4 linked regions of the Homo sapiens genome follow. The protein of the gene in region 2 purifies or fractionates together with the protein of the main gene of each other region. This does not show direct contact. Each region holds a gene or a part of one and is shown on either strand. Other genes may lie near its edges. The genes, in order: EDRF1, HSPBP1, NT5C2 and ELF2.

Region 1 (7,033 bases), on a different chromosome or scaffold from region 2:
ATCTGCTGACAGTAGCTCCTTCCTTAATGTGGCCATTTCAACTGGCAGGGGAAGGAGGGAGGGGAAAAAACCTAGAGAAAGAGGAAGATGCCCAAATAGATGGAACACTGATTCTTTTTTGAGACGAGTCTTGCTCTTTCGCCTAGGCTGGAGTGCGGTAGCATGATCTTGGCTCACTGCAACCTCAGTCTGATGGAACACTGATTCTAAAGGAAGAATTTAAATACCATAAGCTTGAGGAGGGGTATGATGTTAGTTCACCTGAGACGTAAGCTGACTGCTGGGTATCTGCCTCCTCCAAATATGGGCATGTTGGAGCCGACCAACATATGGATATCTTCAAATGTCCATAGAATATTCCGAACAAAATCATTTTTAAGACCCTGTGATTTAAAATAGGGAGGATTATAATAAACAGTCAATCTGTAATTTCCCCCCATGATCCATAAAAAGACTAGAAAAAGGAAGAGACAAAGAAGACAAAGTCAGGCCCCAGAGCTAAGATCACAAAGATGCTTAGAAAGCAGTTTCAGGATCAAGTGGAGTTTTTCCCTATCAATTTCGACTTAGGCTAGTTTTGAAATGACAAAGTAGACTGGGGATTTGCTGTCACCTTGGACACCATGGAAAGCATACCTGACTGTGCTCCCCGTCATTGAATAAAGTAATCAGGTTTTGTTCTTTGGGGGCTGAGGCCACATGCCCCACTATGTATGAGGGTTCAAGAGGCTCACTTCCCTGTGAAAAGTGCAAGGATAAGGAGTGATTCTGCTGTCAACATTTCTTAAAATTGACCCACTTTTGAGAGTATCACCTAAATATTCAAAGCACACACTTCAAATCTACCATTGTGAATTATTAGGCCAATACAAATAATAACACGCCTCATTGGGTGGCTTGCTTTGGCTAATGATCATAGCTACTATAAGAAGCGAATCACATTTAGATCTTACTCAAGAGAGATAGATTAAAGATTATTCTAAACTTTCTAAGTTTTTCATTTTTCTCTTTTTTGGTGCATCTGATTACCACTGCTCTTTCAGCCTACTCTATCTATATTGAATTTAAAAATTCCTAAGAAACTGGCCAGGCACGATGGCATGTGCTTGTAGTCCAAGCTATGTGGGAGGTCGACAGGGGAGAACTGCTTGAGCCCAGGAGTTCGAATCCAGCCTGGACAACATAATGAGAGTCTGTCTCTTAAAAAAAAGAAACCCTAAGAAATCTTACTCAGCCACAGTTTGAGATACTCATTATCTTAACAGTCTCCAGTTTAGCATTTCCTGATGAGTGTTTCACAGAACACTAGTTCCTGGGAAACTGAATGAAAATTTTCCAGAGTCAGGTTTGAAAGATGACGTTTACCAGGTACTCACTTTTGTGGAGTAACAATATTTATTGATATTAAAACAATAAATATATAATAAGTAATCCTGCAATAGAAAAATCTACTTTATCTTTGTAAAAACCAATGTTTCCCAAATGTATTTAATCTCAGAACACTTTTTGTTCTTAAGATATTCTCTGGAATACTTTTTTTTTTTTTTTTGAGACAGAGTTGCCCAGGCCAGAGTGCAGTGACATGATCTCAGCTCACTGCAACCTCCGCCTCCTGGGTTCAAGCAATTCTCCTACCTCAGCCTCCCGAGTAGCTGGGATTACAGGCACGTGCCACCATGCCCGGCTAATTTTTTTTTCTTTTTTTAAATAGAGATGGGGTTTCGCCATGTTGGCCAGGCTGGTCTCTAACTCCGGGCCTCAAGTGATCCACCCACCTCGGCCTCCCAAAGTGCTGGGATTACAGGCATAAGCCACTGCGCCCAGCCTGGAATGCATTTTGGAATACACTTGGGCCCTCTTGACACTGGGTAAACTCAGCCTACCACTCAATTTTCCAATCATTAGGAAAGTAGTACTGCCATTAAGAAATACTACTTTAAGCTTTTAATGTCATTGCCTCAACAGAACCCAAGACAGGCATGCGTGTGTTGCTTATTCCACAAACATCTGTCTTACTTGTCATCTGTGTGTGCCAGTAGGCTTGGCACCTGCTTGGGAAGAGTGTGTGACTATAAGCACAGGTGGCTCTCTAGCACTTCTATTGTGCCTTGTCCTCTCCCTCAGGAGTCCTAAGAGAACTTTAAACTCTTTTTTATTTTATTATTTGTTTACACAGACAAGTTATCAACTCATGAACCGATTCTCAAAACAGTTTGCCAGGCAGTTGCTTTAGTCAGAGTATGAGCTCTAGGTTACAACGTTCTCAATAAATGTCTGGCTCTAGGACCATCCCACAGTCACCTATTTAACCTCTATAACTGCTTAACAAAGGCCTCAAGCCAGCAGTTTTAGTTTTTGGAACAAGAATTTGTGCAGAGATAGCTTGCAAATATAAACAAATCTCTAAAGCTGAAATTTAAGCAATATAAGAAAAGTACTCTGTAAGAGACTCTTAAGGCAGGCTAGCTGTGCCTAGGGATACACCACTACTACGATGATCTGACTGTTAGTAGGGCCTTGCTGTGTGTGGAGTACACGGACACAGTGGAGTACTGCTGGAGGAACAGGCCTCTGCAGGCAGAAAGATCTGGGTTTAAGCCCTAGCCTGAGAGTTTCGCCAGCTGTATGACCATGTGAAACATCTTTTGATGAGCGTTAGTTTACTTATTTGTACAATACGCAGCTCCAAGAATGAAAAAAAAAACCTTGTACAAACATACACATGGCATAAGAGCTATTCAGTAAATGCCAGCTTGCTTCCTCAACACGCAAGTCTACAGATTCCCGACTCTCCAAGAGTTTTCACAGTAATTCCTAAACAAGGTAAAGACAGAACAACACTGGGAGATGGGTGACATGGGTAATAGGAGGGTAGTATTTGTATTATGTAGTCTTTTCTCCCTTCTGAATCATAGAACATCCCTACTTCTTGGTTGTTACCACTATGTGACTTGCATATTAATTACTTCCTTTTCCTTACATTTTTCTCACTTTTGAAAGAAATTTAAATTCATTATGGAGTTTTATGGGATGCTTTCTCTATCTTAAACCTACTGAAACTAAAATCGAGTTAAATGTATCTGCTCCCTGTAATTTGTGAAGATTGAAACAATCTGGTTGAATAGTGCTCAATATGTGGGAACACAACAGCAAGAGGGAAGACGTAACTTATCAAGTCACAGATCTTATTATCTATTTATCAATCTATTTTCCTGAAAATAGACATGTCACAATTTACATCTATGGCTTTATTTTATTCTTTGATAGATACAGTAAGTACAAAAATAAACAAGCATTAGGAAGAAACAAGGATGTAAGAGATAAAATGGACAACCTAGTTCATTCTCTTTTCTAAAACTTTTATAACATGAATGTGGACTAAGTTTCAGGAATTTTATCTGGAAAACCTTAAAGGGATATTTTAGGTCTAACAATCTGACTGAAAGTTATGGTAAAAAGGTTAGAACTTAAATTACAAATGGGTCTCTGAGTCTCAATATTTGGTAGGAAATGTCTATCAAATATTGACAGATATTTATAGTTAAAATAGTATTTATAGTTAAAAATGACTAGTATTTATAATTAAAATATACTATATCTCTATATAATACTCATCACTTGAAGGAGATAATCAGTATTAATAAACATATCAGTCAACTATTATATTTCGATTTAATAAAAAAATCTGATCTCCCCACCTATAATAGCTCTTGTAAATTCTATTGCGAAAAACTAAAAAGTATTTCTCCAATTCCATAAATTGACAGAAGTCTTTTTTCCCCCATTCCATAAGCTGACAGAATATTTCTTAGTCCTGTTCATCTTTTTTTTTTTTTAACGAGATGTTAAAAAAGGCTTTGTTTTCCTATGTGAGTTTCTAGAATTAGCATTTAAGTACTAACCTGACTGGAAGCACTGGGATCTTCAGAAACTGAAGAAGGCATTTCGAAGGGAGCAGGCCATGAAGCCCCTTCCGAATCATTTGTCTGATCTGAACTGGACGATTCCTGCTGTTCTGCGGTGGATGAGACAGGCTGAGCGGCTCCATCACCATTGATACTGGCCAAACCAGAAATAAAAAAGGATTGCTGTTACTAAAGTTAACTTCATGCAACAGTCTACCCGTTTATAAAAACTACAATCTGTAATTAAGCATACATCTTGTAAAAAAGAAATATGAAACAAATGTTAACAGTATCACAGGGGCAAAACTTAAATTATAACTTCATTAAGCTTCACACTAAATTTTAGATCAGAATTCCCTTTTTCTCTTTAGAGATAAATAAGTAGCCAAGTACCTGTAATATAAAAACTTGGAAAGAATTGCCTTTTGATACCAGTGCTCTTTGCTCTTTTTCTTCCTCTGCCACTTCTGATCAATGAGTCTTTGATAAAACTCTTTCAACCATGTCCAGTCACCAGTCTGGATAACATGAGATACATATTATTAATACAACACACATAGTCGAAACAATGTTACCTAGTACTAGCTTACAGAAAAGGCTCCTATTATTTTTTGAATAGTTTCATAAACACATACTCATTAAAAACATATCTTTCTGGGTCAATTCATACCACCTTTCTTTTGTTTTTTGTTTCCTAAAGGAAACCCGTCTTCCTCCTCCTAAGCCAGGCTGGGAGAGGTGAGTCTTCTCTATAACATGTTCCTTAGCAGCTGCAGTAGTTCCCACTTTGCACACTATATTGAAATGATCTGTGTATGTGTTTATAACCCCAAACAATGAACTGCTGAGGAGCAAGGCCTGTGATTTGTTCACTGTCACATCCCCGTGCCTAGGCTCATACTCACATGATGAACTAAACGGTGGTCTTTTCAAAGGAAAAAAGCACTTATTTTAAATGTCATTTACCTCACCATAATTTAATTTTCTTTATCAAAGCACTGTAGTAATATTCTTTAAAGACTGACCATGAACTATTTCTTGCCAGCCCAAGAAAAGTACAGATATGGAGGGTAGTTCTTGAGAAACTGCAACAATGTTATTATGTTTTTCAAAAGTATCCATTCTCAACATGTGGGAAAAACAGTCCTTACCAACATACAATTTGAGAATCTAGGCTAAAGAGCATCAATTAATTCTAATAACTACAGCCATGTGTCATTTAACAATGGGGATATATTCTGAGAAGCGCGTCATTAGGTGATTTTGTCCTGGTGTGAACATCGCAGAGTGTTACTTATAGAAACCTGGATGGTACAGCCTACTCCCTACCTAGGTCATACGGTATAGCCTATTGCTCCCAGGCTACAAATCTGTACATGTGACTGAAGTATTTGTGTATCTGAACACTGCAAATACAGTAAAAATACAGTATATTATAATCTTATGGGACCACCGGTATATGCAGTCCATCGCTGACTGAAACGTCATTATGGGAACATGACTGTATTTATTCATAGGAACAGCTTCTAATATTTTTCACATTTTCCAGTAGCTGTGTTTCCTGAGAATCTGTTTAAGGGAGACGTTAAAGGATTCTTAAAAATATTAAACTAGTCCCTTAAATTTCACAGTTTTTTTCACAACTTTCTTCATTGGCTTCATCTTTTTTCTTGTAAAAAAGAATCTGGCTGTTGGAATCAATAAAATAATTTTCTTCACCATTCTCATTCTCTTCTTTTTTCTTCATTCAAGCTTTTCTATCTTCAGTGAAACTTTCAATTTCTCGATTGTTGAAGTACTCAACTACATTTCCACTTTGGCCATTCTCTGAAACAAAATCGTATTTCTAGTGCTCTTAAGCTGTTAATGTTTTGTTGGATTTTTTCACAAAAGCATTACCTGAGACGATCTCATAAAGAGTTCTTGAATATCTAGCTCATCTAGTAAGAGAGTCCTTCCTATGCGGTGTACTGCCATGCTCACGTGCGACTTGCTGTAGGGAATTTTCAGGAGTTTTTTTATGTTCTTAAAAAATTAAGAGAAAAAATAGTTTAGAAAGACTGTTTTAGTGTGATTTGGAATCTTTTAAATTTTAGCTTCATTCATTTTAAAGCATAATAAACCTTATTTCCTTAAGGTTATACAAATAGAACTTTAAACAAAAAGCTACATGCAAACACACAGAGGACGGAGCTTTCAAACCAGAATCACGTACACTTTATGAGTCACATTATGTTAGTGACAGTCAAACATTTATTTTTACATGATAGGATTTCTTAAAGTTAAGGGTGTATACGTCACACTGTTATGCTGACCCAGGCTTTTAGCATATCAGATCAAAGCCACTAAGGATCCAATAGATTTTACTAGAAATATCATTTGTAACTCAACTGGTAACATATACAGAATAATCCCAAACACTATTATCAGTTTCAATTACTATCATTAAAATATAACCATCAATATATTATTACCACTGCCAGTGTTTGGGGATTGATTATTCCTTCCTCTTTAAATACAAATGTGGTAAACAATGATACTTTAACAACAAAAAAGATACTCAATAATCAGGTAAGTTTTATCTTATTTCATCACTAATTTCTCAAGACTTGCACATTTATATTATGCAAAACACAGCATGATATAAAACACCTATCACAAAACACCTCCAAAATTACATTAAGCGACAAATAACACTTACTTCAGAGTCAGAGACAACATCCACATCATTTCCCACTGAATCAATAAAGTCATATGCCATGCCAAAGCTACCAAAGAGAAAAAAGGACACAGGTTATGAGGTCATGCTCATAATCATGCAAGTAGAGCTTAATAACAATACTGTAGCTCATTGCTTCTAGGATACACATTTTCCACATTTTAACAACTCTGAAACCAGGATGTGTATCACCATCACAGTTGGCAAGTTTTTTTTTCTTAGTGGTACTAAAATAATGGTGTGTCTTAAAGTCAATGGCATCTTAGATTTGATAAAACATGGTAATAATCATTAGAAGCATCCAGTAGGAAATATTTAGAATAAAAACAATTATTCTTTATTTTTGTAATCACAAAACTCAAAGTCTCCAAGGGAAAATAGTTCAAAACTTTATTCTTTTTAGGTGGAG
Region 2 (6,849 bases):
CGGGCCTCCAGCTGGAGGGATGGAGAGGAGGTGGGAGGATGCAGGAGAGAGGATGGAGGGAAGGATGGAGAGAGAGAGAGAGGACCCAACAGATGGGGCAGAGATGGAGATACACAAAGAGAGATGCTGGCTGACACAGAGACGGGAGACAGGCAGAGACGCCAGAGGGATGGAGACCACCAGAGACAGGCTGAGGCAGAGAGGGAGGAAGGGCAGAGATGGACAGGGACAGAAGAGAAGGAAGGAATGGCAAGCCGGGAAAACAGACAGGGAGAGGGAGAGAAAGCTGCTGGAAGCCGACAGAGGGATGGAGAGAGTCAGAGATTCAGAGAGACAGAGAGAGGAAGACCAACCAGAGAGGTGGGGGAGAGGGGGCGCAGATGGAGCTGTAGAGAGGGCCGGGGGTACACACAGGTGGAGGGACACGTGCTGGGGAGAGGTGGGGACATATGGAGGGAGACAGAGACAGAGAGGGGAAAGAATTCTTGGAGTTGCTGACCCAAAATTCATGTCTGTTTCCCCAGCCCCCTAAGGCCACCCATTCAGGGTAAGGGTAAGTCTGTGTCCCCACCAATGTCAAGGCCCCATATCTACCCACAGCCCAGAGTGATTTTGGATTCTCTTTACAGAGAAGCTTCCAGAACCCCCTCAGTTTCCCTGTGTTATGTTTTTAGACCCCCATATATTCTCTGTGCTCGTCATAGGGTCCTTTATATCTTCATGTGGACCCCAGTACAGCCCATACATCCCCACTGTAGCAGGTCCACAAGCATGTGCTCTGCCTGTGAGTAACCCGCCTGCCCCCATTAGCTTTCCGCATAAACCATAGATCCCTCTATGTCATGTACCCGCAAGTGTTAGACACCCATTTAATTCTCAAGTCCCCTGTAAAGCACACCCAGGGCTGGGCAAGGTGGCTCATGCCTGTAATCCCAATACTTTGGGAGACAGAGGTGGGAAGATCAGCCTGGGCAACACAGTGAGACCCCATCCCTACAAAAATTTTTTTAAAAATTAGCCGGGCATGGTGGCATGTGCCTGTAGTCCCAGCTACTTGGGAGGCTGAGGCTTGAGTCAGTGAGTTCTAGGCTGCAGTGAGCTACGTTTGCACCACTGCACTCCAGCCTGAGCAACAGAGTGAGGCCCTGTCTCTAACAAAAATAAAATAAAATAAAGTGCACACAGGAGCCTATTGGCTCCTGTGAGATTTCCCAGTCCCCCATTCAACACCTTGAGTCCACACATCTTTAATGAGTGCCAAATCTCAGCCAGGCACTGTTCCTGTTGGTAAGAACGTGGCAGTGACCTAAATCAGCAAAAAGGCCTGTCCTGTGGAGCTTCCATGCTGGTGGATGAAACAGATGATCAGCAAGGTCAATAGGCAAAATGTATGGTGTGTTAGATAATCATGTCCGTGCTGAGGAGGTGACTACAGCAGGGAAGGGGGTTAAGAGGGGCCTGTTGAGCAGGGTACAATTTTAGGCGTCCGGCTTTTTTTGTATTTTTAGTAGAGATGGAGTTTCACCCTGTTAGCCAGGCTGGTTCTGTAGCCTTTTTTTTTTTTTTTTTTTTTTTTTTTTTTTTTTTTTGAGACGGAATCTTGCTCTGTCTCCCAGGCTGGAGTGCAGTGGCACAATCTCAGCTCACTACAACCTCCACATCCTGGGTTCAAGCGATTCTCCTGCCTCAGCCTCCCGAGTAGCTGGGATTATAGGCACCCGCCACCATGCCTGGCTAATTTTTGTATTTTTAGTAGAGATGGGGTTTCACCATGTTGGTCAGGCTGGTCTCAAACTCCTGACCTTGTGATTTGCCCACCTCAGCTTCCCAAAGTGCTGGGATTACAGGCGTGAGCTACCACACCTGGCCTGGTTCTGTAACTATTGAGTCCCTTTTTGCTCTCAAATGTCTTGCTATAGATGAAAAATTATATGATCACCCTCTTTTTTTTGTTTTGTTTTGTTTTTTGAGACAGGGTCTTCCCCCTGTTGCCTAGGCTGGGGTGCAGTAGGGCAGTCATAGTTCCCTGCAGCCTCGACCTCCTGGGCTCAAGTGATCCTCCTGCCTCAGCCTCCTGCCTAGCTGTGATATAAGCAGATGCCATCACACATGGCTAATTCTTGTATTTTTTTGTAGGGCTGGGGACACACTATGTTGCCCAGGCTGGTCTCGAGCTCTTGGGTTCAAGTGATCCTCCCACCTTGGCCTCCCAAAGTACTGAGATTATAGACCTGAGCCACTGCCCCCGGCCATGTATTATAAACTGATAGACTTGTACATAGATGTCCGTGTCCTAATTCCCAGGATCTGTGCATAAGTTACCTTGCATGGCTGAAGGGACTTTGCCCATGTGACTGAGATAGGGAGATTATCCCAGTTATTTGGGTGAGCTCGATGGAATCACAAGAGTATTTGTGAGAAGGAGGCAGGAGGAGCAGTCAGTGATGGAGATGGGAAGGTGGAAGCAGAACTTGGGGTGATGGGGCCACCTGTCAAAGAAAGAGTGTGGCCTCTAGAAGCTGGAAAAGGCAAGAAAAACATTCTCCCCGAGAGCCTCCAGAAGTGATGCAATCCTGCTGACAGTTTGATTTCAGCCCCGTGAAACCCATTTTGGATTTCTGCCCTCCATAACTGCAAGATAATAAATGTGTGCTGTTTTAAGCCACCACATTCTTAGTAATTTGTTAACAGCAGCAATAGGAAACTAATATAATAGCACATCCACAGGCCCAGATGCATCTCACAGCACAGTGCTAGAAACACCACACACACACACACACACACACACACACACACATACACACACAACCTATCTGTTTGGTCTTCCTGTTTCTGCCCAAAATATCCCCCTGCACAACCACGCCCAGCAGGTGATTGATACGTTTGTGACTGTGTGCCCGTTTTGCGTTGAGCACAACCTTTTCCTGGAGGAAAACGCCTCCTATCCAGGATCAACACGGGAGTTTCTTTAAGCCCAGCCCAGGGCCAACACCTCTGCAGATCGGCCCGCACCAGCACGTGCCCAGGCCTAAACCCCACTTCTGGAGCACAGAGGCCTCGGGCCTCCCCACCAAGCTGGCTCCTCTGGCGCTCTGAATCTTGCTGGGCTCTGGGGCACTTTGCTTTCCGGCTCTAGGCCTCAAGAATCCTCTCCTCTCCACCTGGCAGGACATGGGGAAGAGTCCATGAGGGAGAGGCTGGGTGATGAGAGGGATCCACGCCGCAGCTCCACTTGACAGATGGAGAAACTGAGGCCGAGAGAGGGGTTGCGGGGGGCATAAGGCTCACAGGCCAGCCATTACGGTTGCGACCCCAGGGCTCCTGTAGATGGGGTTGGTGGCCCCGGTGGAGGCGAAAGTCAGATTAGTTGGGGCGAGGTCCCAAACCTTCTAAGGATGACTGACAGCAATGAGTGGGAGGGGCCTGTAAAGGGGCCGGGGCCCAACTGGGAGAGTCTGAAAGGCCTAGAGCAGGGGCGGGAATCGTAGGGTGGGCGGGGTCAGACCTGGGGGCGGGGCACACGTTAGAAGAGGGGTGGAGCTTGCAAAAGTATCGGGGGCGGGACTCGCTGAGGTGCGAAAACTGGGCCAGGGGCAGGGCTTTGACCAGCTACTTGAGCGTGAAGGGGCGGCGCCCGCACGAAGGGGCGTCCCAGCTTGGAGGCGGGGCCCGGATGGGAGGGGCGGGGCCGAGTGCAGTATCCCGCCAGGTGAGAAGGGGATAAGAGTCGGGCAAGCAGCTTCAGCCGCAACCACGGCACGAAGTTGGGTGGGTACGCCTGGCACTTCCGGGTGAAACCGTGCGTATTTCCGGTTAAGATGGCGGCGCCCAGCAGAGTCAGGTGCGGACGACTTTGTCTGTAGGAGCAGCGGCGGCTTGAGGACCCGGGGAGGTGAGATCCGCCTTATTCCGGCGCCCCTCTTCGGAGAGGAGGGAGAAGACTTGTTGCTAAGGAGACCAAAGGGCGGGCTTGTTGCTACGGAGGCGGAGCAGTGAGGTTGCTAAGAGACGGGACGCACGCAGTGGAGATGGGGAAGGGGGGTTGTTGCCAGGGAGAGTGGGTGGGGCCTGTTGCTAGGGAGAAAGGAGAGGCTTATGACTTTGGGGAAGGGTCCTGTGGGTATGAAGGAAGGAAAAGGGGCTGTGGTTAAGTGGGCTGGGGGCAGAGTGGTTTGGGGTCATGGGGGGTCGCCGAGCTCCCCTGAAACGCCGCCTTCTCAGCAGACCCTCAAGAATCGACCCATCAGGACGCCAGAGCTGCTTCAGCGGTGACCACCTTCTCCCTCTAACACATTCTTCCCTTCTTCACAAACGGCCCATGTCAGACGAAGGCTCAAGGGGGAGCCGCCTGCCCCTGGCGCTGCCCCCGGCCTCCCAGGGTTGCTCTTCAGGGGGCGGCGGCGGCGGCTCCTCGGCTGGGGGCTCGGGCAATTCCCGGCCCCCACGCAACCTCCAAGGCTTGCTGCAGATGGCCATCACCGCGGGCTCTGAAGAGCCAGACCCTCCTCCAGAACCGATGAGTGAGGAGGTAAAGGATGGGGACCCAAGAAGCTGGGGTGAGGGGCCTGGGGACAGATAGAGTTGCCTTGGGAAGTGTGACTTGGGGAGCCACAAGAAGACTAGGGTCTTCTTGGGTGGGAGGCAGAAAACCAGGTGTGGAGGCATTGTGGGCTATAAATTGTGCTAGATGGGGTTATCGTTGACTGAAGGTCAGATCTCAAGAGAGTCTGAGGGGACATATCCTCTCCAGAGCCAGACTAACCTGGATTCAGCATTTCCAGCTGTGTGACCTTGGGTATATTACTTCATCTTTCTGAATCTCAAGTTCTTCATTTACAAATTGATAATAATAATAACTACCGTATAGGGTAGTTCTGAGGTTCTACTTTAAGTAGGGCTGCACACAGTGCCCAGCATACAGACAGTGCTTCTGAAGGCAGCAGTGTGTTTTCATGAAGAGCACAGGCTCTGTAGTCAGACTGCTGTTTTTTTTTTTTTTTTTTGGTGGGGGCAGGGTTGGGGGTGGAGGACACAGTCTCGGCTGGAGTGCAGAGGCGCAGTCTTGGCTCACTGCAACCTCTGACTTCCCGGTTCAAGCAATTCTCATGCCTCAGCGTCCCCAGTAGCTGGGATTAGAGGCATGGGCCACCATGCCTGGCTAATTTTCGTATTTTTAGTAGAGAAGGGGTTTCACTACATTGGCCAGGCTGGTCTCGAACTCCTGGCGTCAAGTGATCCACCTGCCTCGGCCTCCCAAAGTGCTGAGATTACAGATGTGAGCCAGCACGCCCAGCCTAGACTGCTTGGGTTTGATTTCAGGCTTTGCCAATTGCTGACTGTGTGACCTTGGGTAAGTCTCAACCTTTCTGTGACTCAACTTTCTCATCTGCGAAGTGGGGATAACAATGATATATACCTCATAGAGTTGTTTTGCAGATTCATAGCGATAGCTATTATATATAATGTTTAATCGACAATTACTGTATACAGAGCATTATGCTAACCCACTTACATATATGATATCATTGAACCTTTACAACAGTGAGGCATGAAACAGGCACAGAAACATTAAATAGCTCACTCAAATTTACTTAGAACTGTGACTAAGGAGACCTCTGCTCCCCTCCCTCACCCCCAAAAATTCCAGCAGTCACGTATTAGCTCTCATCTCCTTTTTCTTTGAGATAGTCTCACTGTGTTGCCCAGGCTGGAGTGCAGTGGCCTGATCTTGGCTCACTGCAACCTCTGTCTCTCAGGTTCAAGCGATTCCCTTTGCTGCAGCCTCCCGAGTAGCTGGGATTACAGGCTCACGCCACCAGGCCTGGCTAATTTTTGTATTTTTAGTAGAGACGGGGTTTCACCATGTTGCCCAGGCTGGTCTCAAACTCCTGAGCTCAGGCAGTCTACCCACCTCGGCCTCCCAAAGTGCTGGGATTACAGGGATGAGCCACAGCTCCCAGCCGATATTTGTTGACTGAAGGAACATCAGCCCTCAGTTGTTGGCTGTCTTTATTAATGGCTGTTCCTTTGTAATGAATGACTGATGGATCTCCTTCTTTCCTCCTCGCCTTGGTCTCCAGAGGCGTCAGTGGCTGCAGGAGGCCATGTCGGCTGCCTTCCGAGGCCAGCGGGAGGAGGTGGAGCAGATGAAGAGCTGCCTCCGAGTGCTGTCACAGCCCATGCCCCCCACTGCTGGGGAGGCCGAGCAGGCGGCCGACCAGCAAGAGCGAGAGGGGGCCCTGGAGCTGCTGGCCGACCTGTGTGAGAACATGGACAATGCCGCAGGTACCCCGCTTCCCCCGCCAGGACGTTCTGCCCCTCTGTACATGTCCTGCTGCCTCTCAGCTCTTGCCCCTACTCTTGGGGCTCACACCGTCAGCCTCCCTGCTGCCTTCTCACCATCAGCCTGTTCGCCTCCATTGCCATAAGGAGCAAGGCTCTGCCTCACCCTCATGGCAGGTGGAGTCCCCCACTTCCCTGATCAGCTCTGAGATGGCTGTTTCTCTCCTAGTCCTCTGGGTGTCCACTGCCACTCCCCAGAGTACAAGAGGGAAAGTGGCATGGGTGGGGTGGCAGAGAAGGCCTCCCCGGGGTGACGTTTGATCAGAGACCTGAAGTGAGGTGAGAGTTGTGGGATGATCTCTGGGAAAAGCATTCCAGACAGTAGGAACAGCCAGTGCAAAGGCCCTGAGGCCAGAGTGTGCCTGGTGTGTTCAGGAACAGCAGCCAGGCCCTTGAGGCAGAGTAGAGTGAGTGAGGGGCCAGGCGCAGGAAACAGCGCTGGGGTGGGCCTCGCAGATGGGGAGGTAAATGCTGTTTTACTCCAAGCAGCAGAGCTCACAGAAGGTT
Region 3 (4,768 bases), on a different chromosome or scaffold from region 2:
AAAATTATTTGAGTAACACTTTTCTCAATTCTCCTAAAGATGGTAGATAGAAGAAAATGTGTTACATACAGTAGATGAAGGAGGGCTTGTCTTGAGGAACCCAGACTGACAAAGGCTGCAACACACCGGCAGCATGCTGTAGATGCTGGCTGTTGCTGTTACTGTCTGTACTATCAGTGGGATTTTCTGGCTAGCCTTTCATTCACATTTTCAACTTTCTACCTATGAAGTTTTAGAAATCTAGTTGATTTGGCCCTGGACCTGTGACTCAGGAAAAGTCACCTGATTCTCAATCTTTCATCTGAAAATGGGACTGTTAACATTTGCTTAGCTGACTGCACCTGAGACAGCATGTAAATTCTGGTACTTTACAAGCTCAGAATGAGCGTGCAGCTGGAAGGGAAAGTTGTCATCATGGTGTTTAAGCAGGAGGAAAGGCAGTTAAAGAGAAGGTGATGGTGTTCATCTGTTGTCAGACTCCAAGCAGGTATCAGTGAGTTATCCTGAAGAGGGGAAGAGGAGGTAACTGTACACTCAGCATGTTAGTCCCAGGTTCTACTTTCCAGTCACATCTGCAACCTTTTAGTTTAGCAGCAGTTAAGAACTAGGTGCTTATTTATTTAAAATGTCTTCCTTTTCCTTCCAAACCTTAACTAGCACTTTTCGAAGAACTTCAGAGCTTGGATATTTTCTTGGCTGAACTCTACAAGTAAGTTTTCTAAAAATTTCTTTCCCAAAAACTTACTCAGGAATCACTTAGATATAAGAAATGTTCTTTCCAGGCCAGTAATCCCAGCTATTTGGGAGGCTGAGGCAGGAGAATCGTTTGAACCGGGGAAATGGAGGTTGCAGTGAGCTGAGATTGCACCATTGCACTCCAGCCTGGGCGACAAGAGTGAAACTCCGTCTCAAAAAAAAAAAAAGTTCTTTCCAGGCCAGGCGCAGTGGCTCATGCCTGTAATCCCAGCACTTTGGGAGGCCAAGGCAGGCGGGTTGCTTGAGGCCAGAAGTTTGAGACCAGCCTGACCAACATGGCAAACGAAACCCCATCTCTACCAGAAATACAAAAAGTAGCTGAGTGTGGTGGCACATGCCTGTAATCCCAGCTAATTAGGGTGGCTGAGGCAGGAGAATCGCTTGAAGCTGGGAGGCAGAGGTTGCAGTGAGCCGCGATCACACCCCTGCACTCCAGCCTGAGTGACAGAATGAGACTGTCTTAAAGAATAAAAAAAAGCTCTTCCCAGAGATTTTCACTGAGTTTTTCTTTTATCTTTAGGCATCTTGACAGCAGTAGCAATGAGCGTCCAGACATCAGTTCCATCCAGAGACGTATTAAGGTATCCAAATGGGATTTGGGAGAAAACTTGGGAAATAAGTTTAAATGCTTTTTTCACATTCCTGATTTATTATAGAGACTAGCATTCAACTACTGCTCAATAAATATTTGTTGAATGAGCCAAGAATCAATCTTGTTCTTTGTTTTAGAAAGTAACTCATGACATGGACATGTGCTATGGGATGATGGGAAGCCTGTTTCGCAGTGGCTCCCGGCAGACCCTTTTTGCCAGTCAAGTGATGCGTTATGCTGACCTCTATGCAGCATCTTTCATCAACCTGCTGTATTACCCTTTCAGCTACCTCTTCAGGGCTGCCCATGTCTTGGTGAGTTAAAGCTGTAATGGACAGCCAAGATGTACTCTAAGCCCAGGGTCAGCAACCACCTTTGTGAGATGGCACAGGAGATAGTTTGAACATTTCTTTCTGATGTACAGAGCCCAGGGGCAGGTTATATGGTTGCATAAGAAGGGGTCTTTGAGAAAGTAGAACCAACATTGGAAGTTAAGAGTGTAACTTTACTCTCTGAAGTCTACTCTATTAAAAGCTGTATGTGGGCCAGGCATGGTGGCTCATGCCTGTAACCCCAGAACTTTAGAGGCTGAGGTGGGAGGATTGATTGAGCCCAGGAAGTCGAGGCTGCAGTGGGCTGTGATTGCTCCACTGTACTCCAGCCTGGGTGACAGCGAGAGACCATCTCAAGAAAAAGAAAATGTGGTTTTTACATTCCTTTATTCTGATCTGTTTCAGGACTATCTTGTTTTTGCTGTAAAATAGAAAGTAAACTCCCCTCTCCATCTTTTCCAATTTCCAGCTGCAGTAGACAATATGGGCACCATTTTGAGGGGCAGGGAGAGAGGAAGACAGGCAACTATAAGTAGTTCTATGAAGATAAGTCTATATTGACTTGTCCTGTGGTCCATTATAGATGTAATTGCATGGCCACCTAACAGAGGAGAGGGGTTAGGATTTGGGGAGTAGCTACTTTGCTCTGCCTGCTTTCTGAGCCTCTAGCTTTTTTCTGTCTAGATGCCTCATGAATCAACGGTGGAGCACACACACGTAGATATCAATGAGATGGAGTCTCCTCTTGCCACCCGGAACCGCACATCAGTGGATTTCAAAGACACTGACTACAAGCGGCACCAGCTGACACGGTCAATTAGTGAGATTAAACCTCCCAACCTCTTCCCACTGGCCCCCCAGGAAATTACACACTGCCATGACGAAGATGATGATGAAGAGGAGGAGGAGGAGGAAGAATAAGGAGGAAAACCAAAACCCCAAGCACCCATTAAACAAGTCCTGGCAGGACTCACAGGAACAAACGAGGTCCCTGTTAGGGTTCTACTCGGGGGAGGGAGGGGGCTCCATGAAAGGTACGTCTGAAAAGTTTCTGAAGATTTTATTATCATAGATACTTGTTTTGGTTTTGTGTATCTGTACTCTCTGCAGATGGTCCAAAATTGTAATGGAGTCTGTATTAGAAGAAAATAAGGGTAAAATCAGGCTGAACTGCATGTATATGGCTCCACTGTGGCTTGTGACACTTTTAAAATCATCCGTATGTCAGTGTATCTGGATACACGAGGAAAAGGAAAGAGTCTCAGAGTGGAACAAAGAGTGGGAAGAGGTGATCTGTAATGTTACAAATTGTGCTATTACTCCAAGGTCCAACTTTTCCAGTGCATTACATGGTATTGTATATCAGTGGAGAAATGTATTATTTCCATGATCAAATGTAGTCTCTGTTAAGGTCAAGTTTTCTTTTATAAGCCTTTAATTCATCCTCAGTGACTCTGGCAAGGCTGCTTCTCTATCACTGGCTTTGCACAGAAGTATGCTCTACTTGCGTTGCTTTAGGGCAGGATTCTATTTTGAGGGAAAAGACAGTATCCTTATTACCTTTTGTTTGTTTAATAGCACAAATGCTTATTTGTTATCCAAAAACAACCTCCTTCTTATCTGTGATAAATCTATAGAAAGAATTTAGCTGCAAGTGGACAAAGGAACAAGCCCCCAGAAAAGAAAGGGAAGAACTGCCTTCTTATACTACAGAACATGCATTAGTGTGGGCTATATAGCTGTGGCTCATGCTACCCAATTCCAGATTTCTTTGTCCTCTAAGAGTTGATTGCTGTATATTAAAATTGAACATCAGAGGATGGGAAGAGGGCTCTGTAAGCCAGAACCTTACTAAAGTAGAGGGCACAATCAGTGTGAATAAATTCACTTCAGAATCTCAAGTCAAGGCCAGGCACGGCGGCTCACGCCTGTAATCCCAGCACTTTGGGAGGCCGAGACAGGCGGATCACCTGAGGTCGGGAGTTCGAGACCAGCCTTACCAACATGGAGAAACCCCATCTCTACTAAAAATACAAAATTACCTGGGCGTGGTGGTGCATGCCTGTAATCCCATCATCTACTCAGGAGGCTGAGGCAGGAGAATTGCTTGAACCCAGGAGGCGGAGGTTGCAGTGAGCCAGGATTGTGCCATTGCACTCCAGCCTGGGCAACAAGAACAAAACTCCATCTCAAAAAATAAAAATCCCAATCCCAAGTCGAAATCACCTCTTGTTTTAAACAAGAATGAATCATTACTGTGTATGTTAGGGTATTAAAACTGTTTCACCAGTACAGTGAAAGTTGTTTCAACATTTTAAACAAACAGTGGTTATAGACTCTTTCTTTAACCATTGTATATTTTCTTCCATTCTTGTCATTGGTCAATAGGGGAGGGTAGATTAGCTGCTCCAGAATTCAATAAAGTGTAATATTTCTAACGGTGACTTTGACCTATTCTGTAGTACAACTGTAATAGCTATTGGTCTTCAAGTGGGTTTAGATTTGGTGACATCAGTTTGATATTCTCTTAAAGGAAATAAATATTCAAGAACTGATTATGTTCTAACATGATTATATTCATGGTGTTACATAGGCCTCAATTTTTTCACAGAAAGATTTTTGGAACAGGACTGTGAAGTGAGGCTTTTTAAAAAATTATTTTATAAGCAGAGAACACAGCCTGATAACTTAGTCAAGGATATACTGTCTGTCTCACTACTTTGGACTTATATGGCTTCAGATTAAGTCATCCAAGAAACATACATACATTCTAAATGGTATATATTGGGAATATATGCCCCTTTAAAAGAATCAGGTCAGAAATGCAATAACAATTAGACTAGACTGTTGCCCGTGTTAGGAGAATGTGTGGTCATCCTAGTTACTAATTACTCTCACTCAAGATGGAGATGTTGTCCAGTTTAACATAGTCTTAAGTTTTCTTAAACCCAAATAATTTATGAGTAGCTTATTACATCTGCAGAGCTACCTTATTATAATAGTACATTTACATATTGTCTCTTTTAGAGTAAGGACCACATGATTGCTTTGCTTTAATTTACCACTTTTTGTATTGCATCCATATAAG
Region 4 (7,033 bases), on a different chromosome or scaffold from region 2:
TACCAAGACTTTGACTGGAATATCTTATTTAAGAATGTGCACACAATGTCTGGGTTCAGGTGTTCCCATTCCTACAGTGAGAGAATATAATCTGTCACTTCTTGGCCAGCCCAGGAACCTTAAGGCTGTAGGTGAAATCTAATGTCTCCCTTGGTTTGGCTTCCTAGTCTTGAAGGGTTTATAAATCTGAGATTTCTTTGTGGTCAACAGCTATTCTTGCTGCATTTATGTAAATAATCAGACAAAAAACTAATAAAACTATTTTATAAACAAATTTGTCTTATTCTGATTGGTAGAAACTGGGATGACTATAAAAAGTTATGCTTCTAAAGAAAAACTACTGTATCTATTATTAGACTGTAGCCCTGTACACTGTATTTGAGTTTTTATTATCTACCTGCAAACTGGCCTAGATCCTAAATTCTTCTAGGTTCCTCCAATCCAACTTTCTTCCACAGAATTATTAAAACAGAAATTGCTCTGTTCCTGAAGCCCTATAAGCTGAAACTCGATGAATTTTAAGGGACAAGTCTGGTACTCGAAGTCTGAGCCACACAGAAAAGTTCACCAAACTGCCCAATGCCTTAACCAGAGACATTCAAACTGCAAACCAGGATGAGAAGTCGATGGTTCCGCACTGTAGACAGGTTTTCCCAAGATAATTGAACAAGGGGAGACTCTTACCCCTCTTAAGGCGTAGCTTTTTCACTTGGCAAGATAATGTTGTAACTGAAATTTCACAATCAGTAGCTTCTGCTGGTAACTTGACAGAACTTGACCTAAGAGATCCTTCAGTCCACCTAGTGGGTGACTCTGGCAACATCCCTAAAAAAATTATTCACACTCTGCTTTAATTCAACCCAGTTATGGAATGCCGAATGATAACAATGCTCTGCATTAGCTATTGGTTAAGTAAAGAAATGTCTGTGCTATTACTAATACTACATGATTTACCTGGATAAATTCCTTTGAGGAAGTTGAGACTCATACGCAAAATAAGAAAACAGATCACATGGTTACAACAGGTCTCATCTAGTTCTCCATGGTCACTTGGTTTCTTCAACTGACTGCCTTTAGGTCTAGCTTCATGGCTCAAAACCATTATGTAAACTGGTATTATATTACTATTAATTTTACTTTGTATTTTCCTTTTTAAACTTTGTACATGTTATTTGTTACATTTCTGTAGTAGTACAGAATTATACTGACCCAACAGAATTATACTGGGCTGGCCCTAAACCCTGAGATGATAGCCTACATTTAAGGAACAGACAAAAACTGATCTTAATAATGGATTCCCGGCAGACTTAGCCTGAGAATCACTCCCTCCAAACTTCCCTTGTGTGCTCAAATGTGACTGAAAGGGTCCTGACACTGACTCCTAGTTTGACAAGCACTCCCTCCAACATGGGACCATACCAACAACCCAGGACAGGTCCATCCTGGCACCTAAAGATAATTAAAACCTAACTACAAGATGATTGATCAGTGATGCTTCCAAAGAAAGATCCCTTTTGTTTTATTTGTTTTTTTAGAGACAGGGTCTCACCATGTTGCCCAGGTGGGTCTCAAACTCCTGGGCTCAAGCAATCCTCCTGCCTCTGCCTCCCAAAGCGCCAGGATTACAGGCATGAGCCACTGTGCCTGGGTCCAAAGAAAGATTTTGATCAAAAGGGGGAAAAGTGAAAGTTGTTAGAATTAAAATTGAGTCATTTGTGTTAAAAGCCCTGACAAATGGAGCCAGGGAAGGCCATGAAAGGAGGGTTCTCATGCATGAATACCTGATTAAAAAAAAATAACTATTGCCCGGGCATGGTGGCTCACGCCAGTAATCCCAGCACTTTGGGAGGCCGAGACAGGCAGATCACGCTTGTAATCCCAGCACTTTGGGAGGCCAGGGCAGGCAGATCACTTGAGGTCAGGAGTTTAAGACCAACCTGGCCAAAATGGTGAAACCCCATTCCTACTAAAAATACAAAAATTAGCCAGGCATGGTGGCGCAGGCCTGTAGTCCCAGGTACGTGGAAAGTTGAGGCAGGAGAATCACTTGAACCCGGGAGGCAGAGGTTGCGGCAAGCCGAGATCGCACCACTGCACTCCAACCTGGGCTACAGAGCGGGACTACATTTAAAAAAAAAAAAAAAAAAAACTATCACAAAAAAACTCATAAAGGCCACAACCCTGCACAAAGGCAACTGCAACCTTACACAAAAAAATACTTCTGCAAGGACATCTGCCCAGTAACTTCATGTCCAACCTCAGACTGGCATCACTCTTGTCACTGATCTTTATAGCCAAACATAATTGATTTAAAACAATGATGTAATCTTCCTCATTTTTCCTTTAAAAATCTGTCTTGGCCGGGCGCGGTGGCTCATGCCTGTAATCCCAGCACTTTGGGAGGCCCAGGTGGGAGGATCACGAGGTCAGGAGATCGAGACCATCCTGGCTAACACGGTGAAACCCTGTCTCTACTAAAAATACAAAAAATTAGCTGGGCATGGTGGCGGGCGCCTATAGTCCCAGCTACTCGGGAGGCTGAGGCAGGAGAATGGCGTGAACCCGGGAGGCGGAGCTTGCCATAAACTGAGATCTCGCCACTGCACTCCAGCCTGCGCGACAGAGCGAGACTCTTGTCTTAAAAAAAAAAAAAAAAAAAGCTATGTCTTCCTTTACCTCCCTGAATATGCACATAGTTTACTACGGTATGCATATTCCCATTATAATGCCCATTCCTGAATAAATACTGCTTTCTTTCAGAGGGACTGTCTTTTACTTAGGTTGACAGAACCATCTGTATGTAAAAGATGAATTTAGAACCTTATTTCTCACCATACACAGAAATTAATTCAAAATAGATGATAAAATCTAACTGTTAGAGTTAAAACTATAAAACTTCTAGAAAGCAGAAAAATCTCAAGATCTTGGATTAGGCAGAGTTCTTACATAAGACAACAAAAGTATAATCTATAAAAGAAAAAATTTAGAAACCACACTTCATCAAAATTTAAACTAATTACACTTTAAAAGATCTTAATCGCCTTTTTTTTTTTTTTTTTTTTTTTGAGACAGAGTCTCGCTCTGTTGCCCAGGCTGGAGTGCAGTGGTGCGATCTCGGCTCACTGCAATCTCTGCCTCCCGGGTTCAAGCGATTCTCTGTCTCAGCCTCCTAAGTAGCTGGGGCTACAGGTGCACACCACCACACCCGGCTAATTTTTGTATTTTTAGTAGAGATGGGGTTTCACCATGTTGGCCAGGCTGGTCTCGAATGCCTGACCTCATGATCCACCAGCCTCAGTGTCCCAAAGTGCTGGGATTACAGGTGTGAGCCACCACGCCCAGCCACCAATTTTTTAAGCAATGAAAAGACCAGCAACAGACTGTAAAGAAATATTGGCAGATCATGTATCTACTAAAAAACTTACATCCAGAATATATTTCTAAAAAAAAAAACTTCTTATAACTCAATAAGTCAAACAACCCAATTATATTACATTACATTATATTATATTATATTATATTAATTATATTATATTATATTTTTTTGAGACAGAGCCTTGCTCTGTTGCCCAGGCTGCAGTGCAGTGTTGCAATCTCAGCTCACTGCAACCTCCGCCTCCCAGGTTTATGCAGTTCTCCTACCTCAGCCTTCTGAGTAGCTGAGATTACAGGCATGCGCCACCACCTCCGGCTAATTTTTGTATTTTTAGTAGAGACAGGGTTTTACCATGCTGACCAGGCTGGTCTCGAACTCCTGACCTCAGGTGATCCACCCACCTCAGCCTCCCAAAGTGCTGGGGTTACAGGCATGAGCCACCGCACCCAGCCCAAACAACCCAATTTTAAAAGGAGCAAAAGATCTGAATAGTGATGTCATCAAAAAAGATGGGTCAGACACGGTGGCTCATGCTTGTAATCCCAGCACTTTGGCAGGCCAACGCAGGAGGATTGCTTGAGCCCAGGGGTTCAAGAGTAGCCTGGGCAATGCAGTGAGACCCCCATCGCTACAAAAAATAAAAATAAAAAATTAACCGGGCATGGTGGTATGCACCTGCATTCCCCATTCCCAACTACTCAGGAGGCTGAGGTAGGGGGACTGCTTGAGCCCAGGAGGTCAAGGCTACAGTGAGCTCTGGTCGCACCACTGCACTCCAGCCAGCCCATTTATGCCAAGTGTTCCATTTTTGGAATGCTAAGCTTGTGGGAATTATTAATATCCTACTGCTCAAGGTCATCGCCAAGGTCTGCTTTTTCACAAAAAAAAATTGCAACTTCGGGCATAAATGGGTTAAGAAAAAAGATACATGAAAAGATGCTCAATACTATGAGTCATAAGGAAAATTAAAATTAAAATCACAATGACTCCACTAAACAGTACACAGAGAAAAAAACAAAAAAAAAAACACAACAAATTAACAAAATCAGGCCGGGCATGGTGGCTCACGCCTGTAATCCTAGCACTTTGGGAGGCCAAGGCAGGAGGACTGCCTGAGCTCAGGATTCGAGACCAGCCTGGGCAACATGGTGAAACCCCGTCTCCACTAAAAAGACAAAAAATCAGCTGGGCATAGTTGTGCTCGGCTGTAATCCCAGCTACTCGGGAGGCTGAGGCAGAAGAATTGCTTGAACCCAGGAGAGAGAGGTTGCAGTGAGCTGAGATTGCACTACTGCACTCCAGCCTGGGCGACAGAGTGACTCAAAAACAAACAAATTCATATCCATTAGAACAGCTATAATTAAAAAAGAAATACAATAATAAGTGTTGGCAAAGATGTGAAGAAAACTAGAACTCTCAAACATTGCTGTTAGCAATATAAGACGTTATGGCCACTTTGGGAAAACAGTTTGGCAGTGTCCTAAAAAGCTAAACGTATGATGCTGTAATTCTACTCCTAGATAGCTAACCAAGAGAAACAAAACCATATGTCCACATAAAGACTTGTACTCAAATGTTTGAGTATTATTTAAAGAGTCAACAACTGGAAATAATCGAAACACCTATATATACTGGTCAACAGCTAAAGTGTGTTACAGTAATCTCCCCTTACCTACAGCTTTACTTTGCAGTTTCAGTTACCCACAGTCAAACATGGTCTGAAAATGATAAATGGAAAATTTCAGAAATAATCTACGTTTTAAATTGAGTGCCATTCTGAGCAGCATGATGAAACCTCATACCATGCCCCTCTGCCTCGGCCATGAATCATCCCTTTATCCACCATATTCACGCTGTCTACACTACCTGCTCATTAGTCACTTAGTGGCCATCTCAGCTATCAGATCAACTAGTATCTTAGTGCTAGTAACCCTTATTTTACTTAACAATGGCTCAAACACTCAAGAGTAATGAGGATGACAACTGGATATGCCAAAAAGAAGCTGTAAAATACTTATTTTAAGTGAAAAAGTGAAAGTTCTCAATTTAACAAGAAAAAAACTTTATGCTGTTTGCTAACACCTACAGTAAGAAATCTTCTATGAAATTGTGAATAGCATATTGTTGTAACTATTCTATTGTATTGTTTTTAATCTCTTATTATGTCTGATTAACAAGTTAAACTTTATCCTAGGTATACAGATACAGAAAAAAATAATATATGGTTCAATACTACCTGAGATTTCAGGCATCCACTGGGGGTCTTGGAATGTATCCCACACAGATAACGGGGGGGGGGGGGGGGGGGGGGGCTATCATATACCTATACAAAGAAATACTATTCCAAAGTAAAAAGGGACAAAAAACTGATAAACGCTACAATATGAATGAATCCCAAAAACATTATGCTAAGTGAAAGAAGCCAGATACAAAAGACTACATATTGTACAATTCCACTTATACAAAATATCCAGTAAAAGCAAATGGATTAAGACAAAACCAATCAGTGATTGCCTGAGGCTGGGGGTGGGAATAAGGGTTAACTGCAAACAGGCTGGAGGGAATTTTGGAGGCAATGGAAATGTTCGAAAACTAGCTCAAGGTGATAGATAGTTTCACGATCTATATATTTACTAAAAATTATTGAATTATATACTCAAAATGGATAATTTTTTTGGTATCAGGTAAGTCAAAAGCTAATTTATTAAAAAGTGTACATACCCAAAGAAATGACAACACATCTACACAAAAACATGAATATTCATAGCAGCATAATAGCCCAAAAAAATAGAAACTTAAATGTCCATCAACTGATGCACAGATAAATAAAATGTAATATGTCCATAAATAGAATATTACTCATCAATAAAAAAAATGATTACAGGGTGGGTGCAGTGGCTCACACCTGTAATCCCAGCACTTTGGGAGGCCGAGGCAGGCGGATCATGAGGTCAGGAGATCAAGACCATCCTGGCTAACACAGTGAAATCCCATCTCTACTAAAAATACAAAAAATTAGCCGGGCGTGGTGGCACGCGCCCGTAGTCCCAGCTACTTGGGAGGCTGAGGCAAGAGAATCGCTTGAACCCGAGAGGCGGAGGTTGCAATGAGCTGAGATCGTGCCACTGCACTCCAGCCTGGGCAACACAGCGAGACTCCGTCTCAAAAAAAAAAAAAAAAAAAGACTATAAAAAATTTTTTTAATTAAAAAGGATCAGGTGCAGTGGCTCAAGCCTGAAATCCCAGCACTTTGAGAGGCCAAAGAGAGAGGATTGCTCAAGCCCAGGAGTTCAAGACTACCCTGGGTAATATGGTGAAACCCCATCTCTATAAAAAAGAAAATAGATTAGCCGGACGCGGTGGCTCACCCCTGTAATCCCAGCACTTTGGGAGGCCAAGGCGGGCGGATCACGAGGTCAGGAGATCGAGACCATCCTGGCTAACACGGTGAAACCCCATCTCTACTAAAAATACAAAAAAAAAAAAAAAATTAGCCAGGTGTTGTGGCATGCGCCTGTGGCAGGAGAATCGCTTGAACCGGGTGGCAGAGGTTGCAGTGAGCCAGATCACACCACTGCACTCCAGCCTAGGCGACAGAGCGAGACTCCATCTTAAAAAAAAAAAAAAAAGAAAGAAAGAAAATAGATTTTAAAAAAA

What was found.
Region 1: the proteins of HSPBP1 (region 2) and EDRF1 purify together in Homo sapiens (affinity purification with mass spectrometry; 5 studies listed by BioGRID and IntAct, with this or other methods). This does not show direct contact.
Region 3: the proteins of HSPBP1 (region 2) and NT5C2 purify together in Homo sapiens (affinity purification with mass spectrometry; 4 studies listed by BioGRID and IntAct, with this or other methods). This does not show direct contact.
Region 4: the proteins of HSPBP1 (region 2) and ELF2 purify together in Homo sapiens (affinity purification with mass spectrometry; 3 studies listed by BioGRID and IntAct, with this or other methods). This does not show direct contact.

Annotation. Positions count from the first base shown.
Region 1 is NC_000010.11:125,722,708-125,729,740, reverse strand, and holds part of EDRF1 (erythroid differentiation-related factor 1), read right to left. Parts: intron 6,674-7,033; coding exon 6,607-6,673; intron 5,931-6,606; coding exon 5,805-5,930; intron 4,424-5,804; coding exon 4,299-4,423; intron 4,060-4,298; coding exon 3,903-4,059; intron 739-3,902; coding exon 637-738; intron 384-636; coding exon 262-383; intron 1-261. UniProt on the Homo sapiens protein: Transcription factor involved in erythroid differentiation. Involved in transcriptional activation of the globin gene.
Region 2 is NC_000019.10:55,277,078-55,283,926, reverse strand, and holds the start of HSPBP1 (hsp70-binding protein 1), read left to right. Parts: upstream 1-3,816; 5' UTR 3,817-3,892; exon of another isoform or gene 3,893-3,997; intron 3,998-4,070; exon of another isoform or gene 4,071-4,180; coding exon of another isoform or gene 4,181-4,318; coding exon 4,319-4,528; intron 4,529-6,080; coding exon 6,081-6,285; intron 6,286-6,849. UniProt on the Homo sapiens protein: Inhibits HSPA1A chaperone activity by changing the conformation of the ATP-binding domain of HSPA1A and interfering with ATP binding. Interferes with ubiquitination mediated by STUB1 and inhibits chaperone-assisted degradation of immature CFTR.
Region 3 is NC_000010.11:103,087,505-103,092,272, reverse strand, and holds the end of NT5C2 (cytosolic purine 5'-nucleotidase), read left to right. Parts: intron 1-657; coding exon 658-709; intron 710-1,276; coding exon 1,277-1,337; intron 1,338-1,485; coding exon 1,486-1,662; intron 1,663-2,050; exon of another isoform or gene 2,051-2,364; coding exon 2,365-2,601; 3' UTR 2,602-4,235; downstream 4,236-4,768. UniProt on the Homo sapiens protein: Broad specificity cytosolic 5'-nucleotidase that catalyzes the dephosphorylation of 6-hydroxypurine nucleoside 5'-monophosphates.
Region 4 is NC_000004.12:139,167,218-139,174,250, forward strand, and holds part of ELF2 (ETS-related transcription factor Elf-2), read right to left. Parts: intron 1,640-7,033; exon of another isoform or gene 1,550-1,639; intron 826-1,549; exon of another isoform or gene 685-825; intron 1-684. UniProt on the Homo sapiens protein: Isoform 1 transcriptionally activates the LYN and BLK promoters and acts synergistically with RUNX1 to transactivate the BLK promoter. Isoform 2 may function in repression of RUNX1-mediated transactivation.